2 separate regions of the Homo sapiens genome follow, and region 1 is linked to region 2. Evidence: fine-mapped expression QTL. A gene starts in region 2. The other region holds a variant in brackets. All regions are shown on one strand. Distances are between the middles of the regions.

The links. PIP is the estimated chance that this variant, and not a neighbour inherited with it, causes the effect. A credible set is the group of variants that fine-mapping cannot tell apart.
Region 1: its variant is the best candidate, but not a certain one, in a credible set for the expression of GRIN3A in whole blood (TOPMed, PIP 0.51).

What each region holds. Positions count from the first base shown.
Region 1 is chr9:101,586,861-101,591,860 of GRCh38, forward strand. All of the region lies in intron 6 of GRIN3A (glutamate ionotropic receptor NMDA type subunit 3A), which reads right to left. PPP3R2 (protein phosphatase 3 regulatory subunit B, beta) reads right to left here. Exons shown (of 1, transcript NM_147180.4): 1 at 4,744-5,000. Among named protein-coding and RNA genes, the nearest start is that of PPP3R2, 5.6 kb to the right of the region's middle. The variant A/G (reference allele first, on the strand shown) is at 2,405.
Region 2 is chr9:101,736,770-101,742,279 of GRCh38, forward strand. GRIN3A (glutamate ionotropic receptor NMDA type subunit 3A) reads right to left here and starts at 1,878. Exons shown (of 9, transcript NM_133445.3): 1 at 512-1,878. The coding sequence starts at 1,210. RefSeq lists a silencer at 1-292 and enhancers at 1,187-1,711, 1,712-2,235.

The DNA of each region.
Region 1 (5,000 bases), 150 kb before region 2:
CATTTCCAATGTCAGTGCCCCAAAGACATAGTCCCCTAGTTCCTGCACTAGCATCCTTGGAGTGCTGTGGTTCGAGGCTTCATCTGTCACTCTCTTTCTTACTTCAAAACATTGAGCTTTCCCGTTATTCTTTTGATAGGTTTTGCTTAAGTTTAAAAATCTGTTGCAGCCGGGCGCAGTGGCTCACGCCTGTAATCCTAACACTTTGGGAGGCCGAGACAAGTGGATCATCTGAGGTCAGGAGTTCGAGACCAGCCTGATCAACATGGTGAAACCCTGTCTCTACTAAAAATACAAAAATTAGTCAGGCATGGTGGCAGGTGCCTGTAGTTCCAGCTACTCGGGAGGCTGAGGCAGGAGAATTGCTTGAATCCGGGAGGCAGAGGCTGCAGTGAGCTGAAATTGCACCACTGCAATCCAGCCTGGGCAACAGAGCGAGACTCCATCTCAAAAAAAAAAAAAAAAAATCTGTTGCTTGCAACCAAATAATCTGATTCAATATATGTACTGTTTAAAGGATTAAGGTCCTCTAGCTCCGAGGTGTGAATATAACTTCTTTTGAGATAGACTGTATCCTGACGCAGATCTCAGAAATGAACGGGTGGAGCCTGTTTTAGGAAGTCTTCTCTGACAGGGTAAGGCTGTGTTGCTTTTGCCTGTCTCCAGCAGCCTAGTATATAGTAAGTTCAATAAAAAATAAAAAGCACATGTCTGAAAAGTAACTTAATTACATTTACTCTGACATTCCCTATTAAATATTTTTCCCCAGAGCAAAATGACTGCAAGAACCTGGGAAAATAATTGTATTTTTCAGTGACCTAATGCACTAAGCTTTGTATCATCTCCTCTCTGGATCTGCACAGCCAAATGCGATGTTCAAGAATTTTTTTCCTTAATAAGAGAGCTGGTGGCAGGGGGAGAAATAATGATTTTAATGAGAGGTAAGGAAAAGAAAAAGGCTGTGGTGCTTCTGAAATATGGATGACTCATAGATGCTTGGAAGCAGGACAAGGAAGAAGCAAATGCTATTTCTAATTTTGAAGACCTGGTATCTATTTTATTTATTTATTTATTTATTTATTGCCTCCTGATTATTTTGCCCAGAAGAATAGTTAGTTGCTCAAAAGAACTTGGCAGATTCATTGCTGTGTCTATACATATGGCCCCTTGTTGGGGAGAAGTAGGAGAATGATATCCACATGAAATGTGGGCTCCAGATGTACCAAAGACAGAGTTTCCCAGGTGAGAGAGTCTGGTTGAAGAGAGTTAGGTAAGATTGTGCGGTGCAATCATTTGGAATTAAAACATATATATTTAACAAGAATCATGAAGAGGGAGAAAAAAGATTCATTCAGAGAACCTGGAAGTTTCTCATTAACCAAGACATAGTGAAAGATCACACTTAACAAAAGAAACAGAAGAGGAGATAATTTATTAACACAAAATCCAGGGAGACACTGCATGAGCCTGAGTAGTGCTCACACATTTGGATAAACAAGGATTTTGACAGCACTCTCTGCATTCCTCTAACCTGGAAACTGCTTAGTGGCTCATCAACATGGCACTGCCCATGTTGCTGTGAAGATGCTTCTCTCTCCCTGTTTCTTGGGATTCTTGAGCCCCCATTTCTTTTAAGCTTGGGCGACCATCTTTTAGGGTTGAAATTGTACTTAATTTGCCACATTAGCTCTGTTGTGCAGTTTTTTGAAAAATTTATTATTAAAACGACTCAGAAAAATATTTTTAAAAACTAAATGTGAGATTACCCATAATCCTTGTACTATAAAACAATTACTTTCAATGCTCCATTTTCTCTTCTGAACAATGACCATATGCACACATATTCTTCAGAGTTCTAAACATAGGATATAACAAGTTTGCATTATGCTTTTAAAAGAACTTATTTTCTAACAAACTATTTTAATATTTCTAAAAATATTATTTTCTAAATATTATTTTATTTATTAACTTTAGTTGCCTAATACTATCACCTATTGTTTTTGTTATAATTGACTTGACTACTCCCAAACTGTGGTTGTTTAATTTTTTAAATATTATAATTTATGGTATATACGACAAATATTGCTACAATAAAAATTTTGTGTATAGTATTTTTTTTTCTTTTTTTGAGATGGCGTTTCACTGTGACTCCCAGGGCAGAATGTAGTGGAGCGATCTCAACTCACTGCAACCTCCGCCTTTCTGGTTCAAATGATTCTCCTGTTTCTGCCTCCCAAGTAGCTGGGACTAAAGGCATGTGCCACCACGCCTGGCTGATTTTTGTATTTTTTTAATAGAGATGGGGTTTCAGCATGTTGACCAGGCTGGTCTTGAACTCCTGACCTCAAGCGATCCACCTGCCTCGGCCTCCCAAAGTGCTGGGATTAAAGACGTGAGCCTCTGC[A/G]CCTGGCCATGTATAGCATTTTAAAATATTTTTATTTCTTTGAGATATACATTGCAATGAGTGAGATTACCTGGTCAAAGGATACAACTGTTCTGATGACTTGTGATGTGTAAAATGACCCATAAAAAGGGTGAAAGCCATTCCCAATGCCACCAAAGATACTGCAATGCCTAGAAGGCTTCTATTTTTGCCAACTGTTTTATAATTATTCATTTTTCCTGTTTTAAATATTGTAATTTGTATTTATTGAATTAGCAAGCCTATTTTTCCATGTTTGTTTTACCTATCTCCTTTTGAATGAATCATATAATGACTTTTTTGCATATTTATTTATGCATATCAGACACAATGAAGCTTTTTTTTGAAAAACTGCTAACCCTTTTGCTAACATGTTATGTTTCTCCCTTTTTATGTTTTCTTTGTTTTGTTATATTTTATTATATAAAAGTTTGAAGTTTTACACAGCTATACTTATTTTGATTATTGTACATTTTTCTACTGTTTCAGGCATTAGAACATATTGATTATGGGGATAAATATTTTGTGTCCAGTGTTATATCTTTAAAAAATAGTGAACCCTTCAGTCCATTTTGAACTTCTGTGCCAAAGAGTGTAACTATGTTAATTTTTCTTCACTGAAACTCTTAATTTCATCTCAATATTTCAGAGACTCCTTAGTCAATAAAAAGCTACCTCCATATTAGAGTGACCTGCATTTCTTTGTAGTAATTTAGGTTTTTATTTAAAATCTTTAAAGGTTTTATTTAAAATATTGGTAATTTTTAAAAAACATTGTGAGAACAAACACCATGTAAAACCAGTAACAACGAAAGCAAACATTTGTAGGTCAGAGTTAGCCTGTGAGTAGTCAGACTGTCTTCTGATCTACACAGCTTTACTGCTACTACGGTGACCCTTCAGTGTTAGAATTTTTCATTATGAATCAGCTAATTCCTGATGATTCATGATTTATAGTTCACAGTCATTGGCTACTGGGGTAGGTACGGTAGTTGACACGGCAGCAGAGAAGTCCGGTCTGATTCTCAGTCTGGTGGCCTTGTTCCTCTACCATAATGACACTCTATTTATTTATTTATTTATTTATTTATTTATTTATTTATTTATTTATTTTTTTGAGATGGAATCTCGCTCTGTCACCCAGGCTGGAGTGCAGTGGTGTGATCTCAGCTCACTGCAACCTCTGTCTCCCTGGTTCAAGCAATTCTCCTGCCTCAGCCTTCCGAGTAGCTGGGATTACAGGCACGTGCCACCACGCCCAGCTAATTTTTGTATTTTTAGTAGAGATGGGGTTTCACCATGTTGGCCAGGATGGTCTCGATCTCCTGACCTCGTGATCTGCCCGCCTCGGCCTCCCAAAGTGCGGGGATTACAGGCATGAGCCACCGCGCCCGGCCAACACTCTTTTTAAAAACATCCGAGCCTCCTCCTGTTCAAAGTATTCAAAATAGATATAACACCATAGCAGACTAACTACCTACTCTATCTCTTAACAGAAAGAAAGAGTCAGTACTATAAGTAGAGAATGGAATTTATACTTTTTTTAAATAAAAAATTGTCTTCATTTAAAAAATTCATACTGTTCCTCAGACAGTGGCTTAGGAATTTGTAATTAACAAAAATGTCTGGAAGATATTTTTTCCTTGAGAATGTTTCTAAAGCATGAGAGAATATACACCAAAGCTAAATTGAATTTGCTGAGGCCATATTTTTTTCTCTGTTTCAAAAAGAGTGTCTAGTGGTCTGGGGATTGCAACATATGGTACAGAGCAGACATAATCCAATTAACATAGGATTCATAACAACATATTGTGACTGATCTCTATAGCCTCAGAGCATATTGGTTTGCGTTATCGGTTTAATCTAAATATTGTCACCTGTTTCTCAAGATGAGCCAAAGGTGGAACATGGCTTAAAACTGTCTCGTCTAACATATCTGTTTCATTGCAATGCATAGAACCAAAGAGGTGGAGGCTGCTTGTTCTTTGACAAGCAATTTACCTCTTTGGGCTTCAGTTTCATCATTTATGAAAACTGAGGCTTGATTTGATGACATGGTTAAGACTATAATAAATAATTTGTAACAGGTAGATATAGGAGCTATAAAAATAAGATAAATGCAGAGAGGTAGAAATAAAGCTCAGGATTTGGGGTCAGAAAGCCTGGTTCAAATCCATGCTTTGCCACTTACCAGCTGGGCGACTTTGGAGAAGATGCTAGATCTCTACATGGCATCATCTGTAATGCTGAAATAATGGCACCAGACTCACAGTGTTGTTATGATGATTAAATGATATGTATAACAAAGGTTATATCAAAAGTTATGGGACAATTGCTCAATAAATGTTTATTATCATCATCCCAAGAAACTGTATAGAACTAGATTTGTTGGCAACTGGCAATTAACTGACAGGAAAAACAAAGCATTCCGATTTGGGAATAAATGTGATTCTTTTAACCCAAATATCCAGTTAGATCTTTCAAGTGCTAAATCCAGATACAGGCTCTCAGTTCAAGGTCATTGCCACAAAGCCTTAGGTAACTATCTTGAGTAGATTTATTGAACAATTAGCTTGTA
Region 2 (5,510 bases):
ACCTTTGCCTAAGGCTCAGGCACACCTTCTGAAGAAGTCAGAGAGAGCAGATGCTGCTTTTCCGACACATGCTGTCAGAGTTGCTCTTGGGAGTGTGACACCTAGCCAGGAGTCAGGGATACCCCACCCCCATACCCTGCTCTTGTAGTTCTTCAGAACCTTCACCGCTCTCCACGGTCCTGAACCTCGACTTCTACTTCCCGTCGGGCATCTACTAGATTTCTCCCAGCCGGTCAAAATATGATTTTCTCTCATATTCTCCCCACTTCTTTCCTTCCAGCCGCGACCTCACTGCGCGTTTTATTTCCATCCGCGCTTTAAATATTTTATTCTACTTCTACTAAGCTCCTTCTACCTACCACCTACGAACATGGCCCAATCGTTAAGCAATATCAAAGTTATAAAGTAACAACTCCCCTCAGACTTTACCAAGCCGTTTTCTCTCCCCTCATGCAATGGCCCCGGCCCCCAGCAGCGCCCATCTCCACTCCACGCACCAGGCTCCTCTCACCTGACTCTCCCGTGGAAACTCGTGGCGCACGATGCTGATCACTGGAATGTGCAGGACTAAGCTGACCAAGTCGAGCTCCATCATTTCGCCCTGGCTCTGGGGGAAGGCGAGCAGCGCCGACACCCCTTGCACCACCACGGTATGGCACACACTTTGCAGGAAGGAGAAAGGGTCACTGCTCCATGGCGAACTAGGGGAGGAGAAGGGCAAAAGTGGCAGATCGCCCAGGCCTGCCTCGATGGCCATCACTACTTCCAAAGACAGGTTGTAGGGTAGCAGCCCTTCCACGCGGTTCAGGTTGTCCACGGCAAATAGGAGGGCGTCCCGTGGCCACAGGGCCTCCGCCCTGGCGCCCTCCCCGGGCTTACGGGAGCCCGGCGGCCCCCGGCCATGCAGGGTGCTCCCCAACCAGCGTGCGCCCGGCGAGGGCGCCGGGGACCGCCTAGTCCCTGGCTCCGGCTCATCCCTCTGGGCTCCTGCTCGGCTGTCGTCCGGAGCGCGGCTGGCCGCGCGGGGGGCGGTGGTCCAGGGCTGCAAGTGCACCGCGCCCACCCTCACCGCGTGCCCGATGCGCTTGAGGATCTGGCAGGGCTGCGGGTGCGAGGAGGAGCTGGGCACCCCGGCCAGCACCAGTGCGCAGGGCGGCGGCAACAGCAGACAGACCCTGCTCAGCAGCCACCACAAACTCAGTCTCCTCATTACTGAGACCCGCAGGGAGAAAGCGCGCCCCCTCCTGCGCCCGGCTCGCCCCTCTGCAGCCGCTGCCTGAGGTCTCCGCCTCCAGGTCCCGCGCGCAGCTTCACTCCACTCGGTGAAGCGGTCCCAGGAGCTGGAGCGGTCTCTAGGCCATGCAAGTTGGAGCGTAGCGCGCCTCCGGCAGTCTCAGATCCCGCTCCCAGGTCCCTCCGCCTGGCATCCTCTGCCCGCCCGGTCACTGCGCTGAGCAGGCAGGCGGGCGGGCCGGCGCCTGTCACCCGCAGCTGGAGCGCCCGTTCCCTGCCCGCCCCATCTGCAGGGCGCCTCGGGCACTGCGTCCGGCCCCGCGAGGCGGCCGGGATGAGAAGCAGCCGGAGTTCCTCGGGGGCAGCAGTGACAGAGGAGCGACGCGCTCTCGCCTGGATTCTTTTCCTTTTCTGCCCAGGCGAGACCCACTTATTTCCTGGGGTCGCGTTGGAGAGGGCTTTCACGCCCGGGGTGCGGAAAAGAAGCCAAATCCACCTTCCTCCACTGTTGGCCACCCTCCTGCAGGCTCCCCCAGCGCCGACTTCATTTTCTCTCTTCTCTCGCTACTTCCTCTCTGCCTTTCTTTCGTTATTTTTCCACCGAGTCGCCACCGCCGCTTGCTTCCTCGGAGGAGCAACGCGACTGGCCAGCAAAGGGTGGCTCTGCTCCGAGCGCCAAAGTTCTCCCCGCCTCAGCCGGCGCCTCCCTGTTGCTGAGCCCTGGCGCCTGCCTGTCGCTTGGCTGCGCTAAACGCCCACTGTTGGTGAGATTCCCGAGTGGCACATCCCGCGCCCCTGGAAAGTCCTCTCCCCTCAAAGGCTGGGCGTCATAGTTTGCAAAATTCCCTAAAACCTAAGAAGGAAAATAGGACTATGAGCCGGTGAGAATTCTGAATTCAGAGTCGCACCTGAGGGATCTGAAATTCGGTGGTTCACTGAAATAGGTTCAAAGAGGCTGTGACTTAACGAGCTTCTGGATGTGTCGCTTTTAAGGTTTTTCTAGCTAAGGGTATTAAAGTAAGAATTATTTACACATTTTTATCTCCTCAGCTTCTTTCTTTCTGGCATGTGAGCCTTTGCATTTTTTTTTTAAAGAATCCCTGTTTTTAGGTTCTCAGAATTAAAACAAAGTGAATTCAAAGCAATTTTTTCAGTTCAAGAAATTAAAGAGTTTCAAAATACTTTTAGAGTTTAAAATGCAGTCAACAGCAGTTCCCAGTTTAGATCAAGAGTCCCCAGATCACAGTTTGTACTAAGTTATTTCATTTGTATGGTAATACAGTGAAGTCAACGTGTTGTGATCTAATCTTTTCCTCCATGATTTGAATAATCTGAAACTAGAAGGTAAGGAAAGAGTTAAGGGCAGGCCTGTGGTTTGCACATATACAGTAGATTAATTTTATTTTATCCCACAGTATCGTTTAGAAGGAGGGTAGGAGAGATCCATGGGGTGGAGCAAGCACTGGGGATCAGCCTTTCTGAGTCTAATACTACTTCATGACCATGACCTTGGCAACTTATTTCACCCGACCTTGCCCTGCTGTTTGGATCTGCTAAATTGTTATGCAAATACAGCTGGCTTTTAGCTCTGGAGGGTTGTTTTGATTCATGAGCTAAAGTTTCCATCATGTTTTAAATCCTGGGAAGAAGAGACTCTAGTTAAGTAAAAATCCCAAGAAGCTTGCAAAGTGAATGCTGTTTTCCCCAGCCCAGATCTTTAAAGGTATCTCAGAACAAATTTACCAGACATTCGGCATCGTTTTTGCAAGACTGGGTTGCTAGAGAAGAAAAGTCTCCCATGAGAAAAAAAGTGAAAATCATAGTAGTGGGCTGAATGAGGAGGGAAAGAAACCCTCCTGAAGCCTGAGAGAACATCCCATGAATGGAGAAAAGCTGCCTCTAGTGTGCTGGAAATTCCCCCTTGATCCACAGGATTCCACTGATTGAGATCTGAATAATAAAAGTGTAGAAGTCTGAGGTCCTTGCATTGCAGGAAGATTGGGTATCTACTAATTGTGTAGTAAGGAGGTATATTTGTCTGTACTCGAGTGTGTGTTTTGAAGAATATAATGTATAACTTTCTAGGTTATGACCATGCTTAGTCCTTGTACTTTTAGTCCTTGGCATTACACTTATGTTCAGATCAGGTTCTCAAGAAAAACATGATGATGGAGAATAGTTTGATCTGATCATTAATAGCATCCTAGAATCACTCTATATGCATTAGGTTTTTCACAAGTTCATGACTGCCTTGAGGGAATAACTGAACTGCTCTTACACAGAAGACCTTCCCAAGTTTCTGAGGATAATACTGCACCAGGTCGTGATAAAACTCTACTTAAACCTGGTGAATACTGAGTGAACAATGAAGAATGGCTCTCCCTTCTTGGGCTTCCTTTTGTTTCTTTCCGGGCTTTCCCATTATAATTCACTGGTGTCCTTCCTGTTTTCCTTTTGCTGCTTGGTTTTCTTTGTCCATATCATGGTGGTCTGAGCATATCTGACAAAATTGTTCTCTCTCCTTTCCCCAAATCTTCTTTTTCCTTTTCCCTTTCTCCTTCTTGTCCACCTTTTTCATGTGTCAAGGGTCATCATTTTCAAAGTTCACTTAAATTCAACAACCAATTATTAAGCTCCTAGTATGTGTCAATCATTGTTGTAGGACCATCCTGGAAACAGATGAATAAACTCTAGAAAAGTTGAGTTTTCTCCTTTCCACAACATCACATAGTCAATAAGTGAACAAAATGCTAACATAGAGCTTATATTCTAGTGTGAAAGAGACAATAAAATATACAAATAAGTAAATAAATGTAGGGTATGTTAGTTTGTGCTAAGTGGAAAAAGAAAGCAGTGTAGAGGAAGTATTAGGAAGAGGTTGGGTTGTAATTTTAGGTGAGAAAGCCAGGGAAGACCTCTCGGAGAAGACAGCTTTTGAATAAAGATGTAAAGGGAGGTAAGGGAGTGATTCATGTGAATACTCTAGGCAAGAATTCCCAAGCAGGGGAAACTACATGCCAAGGCCCCGAGTGTTTCTGGAAGGTTTAAAGAATAATGAGGGGTCTGGAGTGGCCGGAGCAAAATGATCCAGGGTGAAAGTGGTGGCAGGTCAGGTCAGAGAGGCAATGAAGAGGTGGCAGACAATGTAAGCAAATGAACTTTGGCATCTACTCTGAATGAGATGAGAAGGCATGAAGGCAGGGACATTGGGCAGAAGAGTGATAGAATTAATACTTTAACGGGATCGCTACAGTTGTTTTGTTACTGATAGATGAACAGTGGTTAAGAGTGGAGGGCAGAAGAGTGATAGAATTAATACTTTAACGGGATCGCTACAGTTGTTTTGTTACTGATAGATGAACAGTGGTTAAGAGTGGACGCCAGAAGATGAGAAAAGGAGATGAGGCTATTGCAATAAGCCACATGAAAAATAACACTACTGTCAAATCATAGAAATCAACCTCAATAGGTTTGTGTGATCATCCCCATTCTAAAGAAAAGGACATTGAATTTGAGAAAAGTTGAGTTATCTGCACAAAATCATTAGATAGTGAGTAGCATTGTGGCTTCAATATTTTAAGTTCTTCCCAGCTGTGTGGTTGGTAGCTAAAATCAGTCAAATTTCAAAATTGGCTTACTCAGAGATGAAGCTTTTTAAAAATTATTATCTGACTCAGAATGAGAACTACTGATCTAAGAACCCATGTTGGAGAGTCAAACCAGAACAAATCCAAATGCTCGCAATTTAACATGTGCTTTTGTTCACATCTGTGTTTTCTGGTACCAGCAATGGATGGACTAAAAGCTGAGATATATTGCTATGGTGGTAGCCAAGGAAAGGCTACAGTAAAGGATGCTGTGGGAATTAGGAGTTAGATTCTCTTTTCAGTATTGTTTCGCCTATGGATATGACATTTAACCTCTTACAGCTGAAGATTCCTCCTCTGAACTGTGGTTGTGGCGACAGATCTTAACAGTTGTCTGTATAGATGCAACAGTATGCAGCCTCCTGTGAATCTTTTCAAGTTCCACGGGAATGGGAGGCTTCTGGTGAGTCTGGAAAACTATCTTGTGTTTTTTCCTATACCTTGACTTATTACAAGTTGCATTCACATCTATCTTTGTTTTTGTAAATGGCCATAATATTAAATGGCATGTCCCCAATTCTGGGTCTCCCCCTTTTTTTTTTTTTGCAATAGTAATTATGTAGATTTTTATCAATATTCAGATGAAAAATGTGTTCTCCCCTAGCTAGTGCATATCCAGAGTCTCAAATT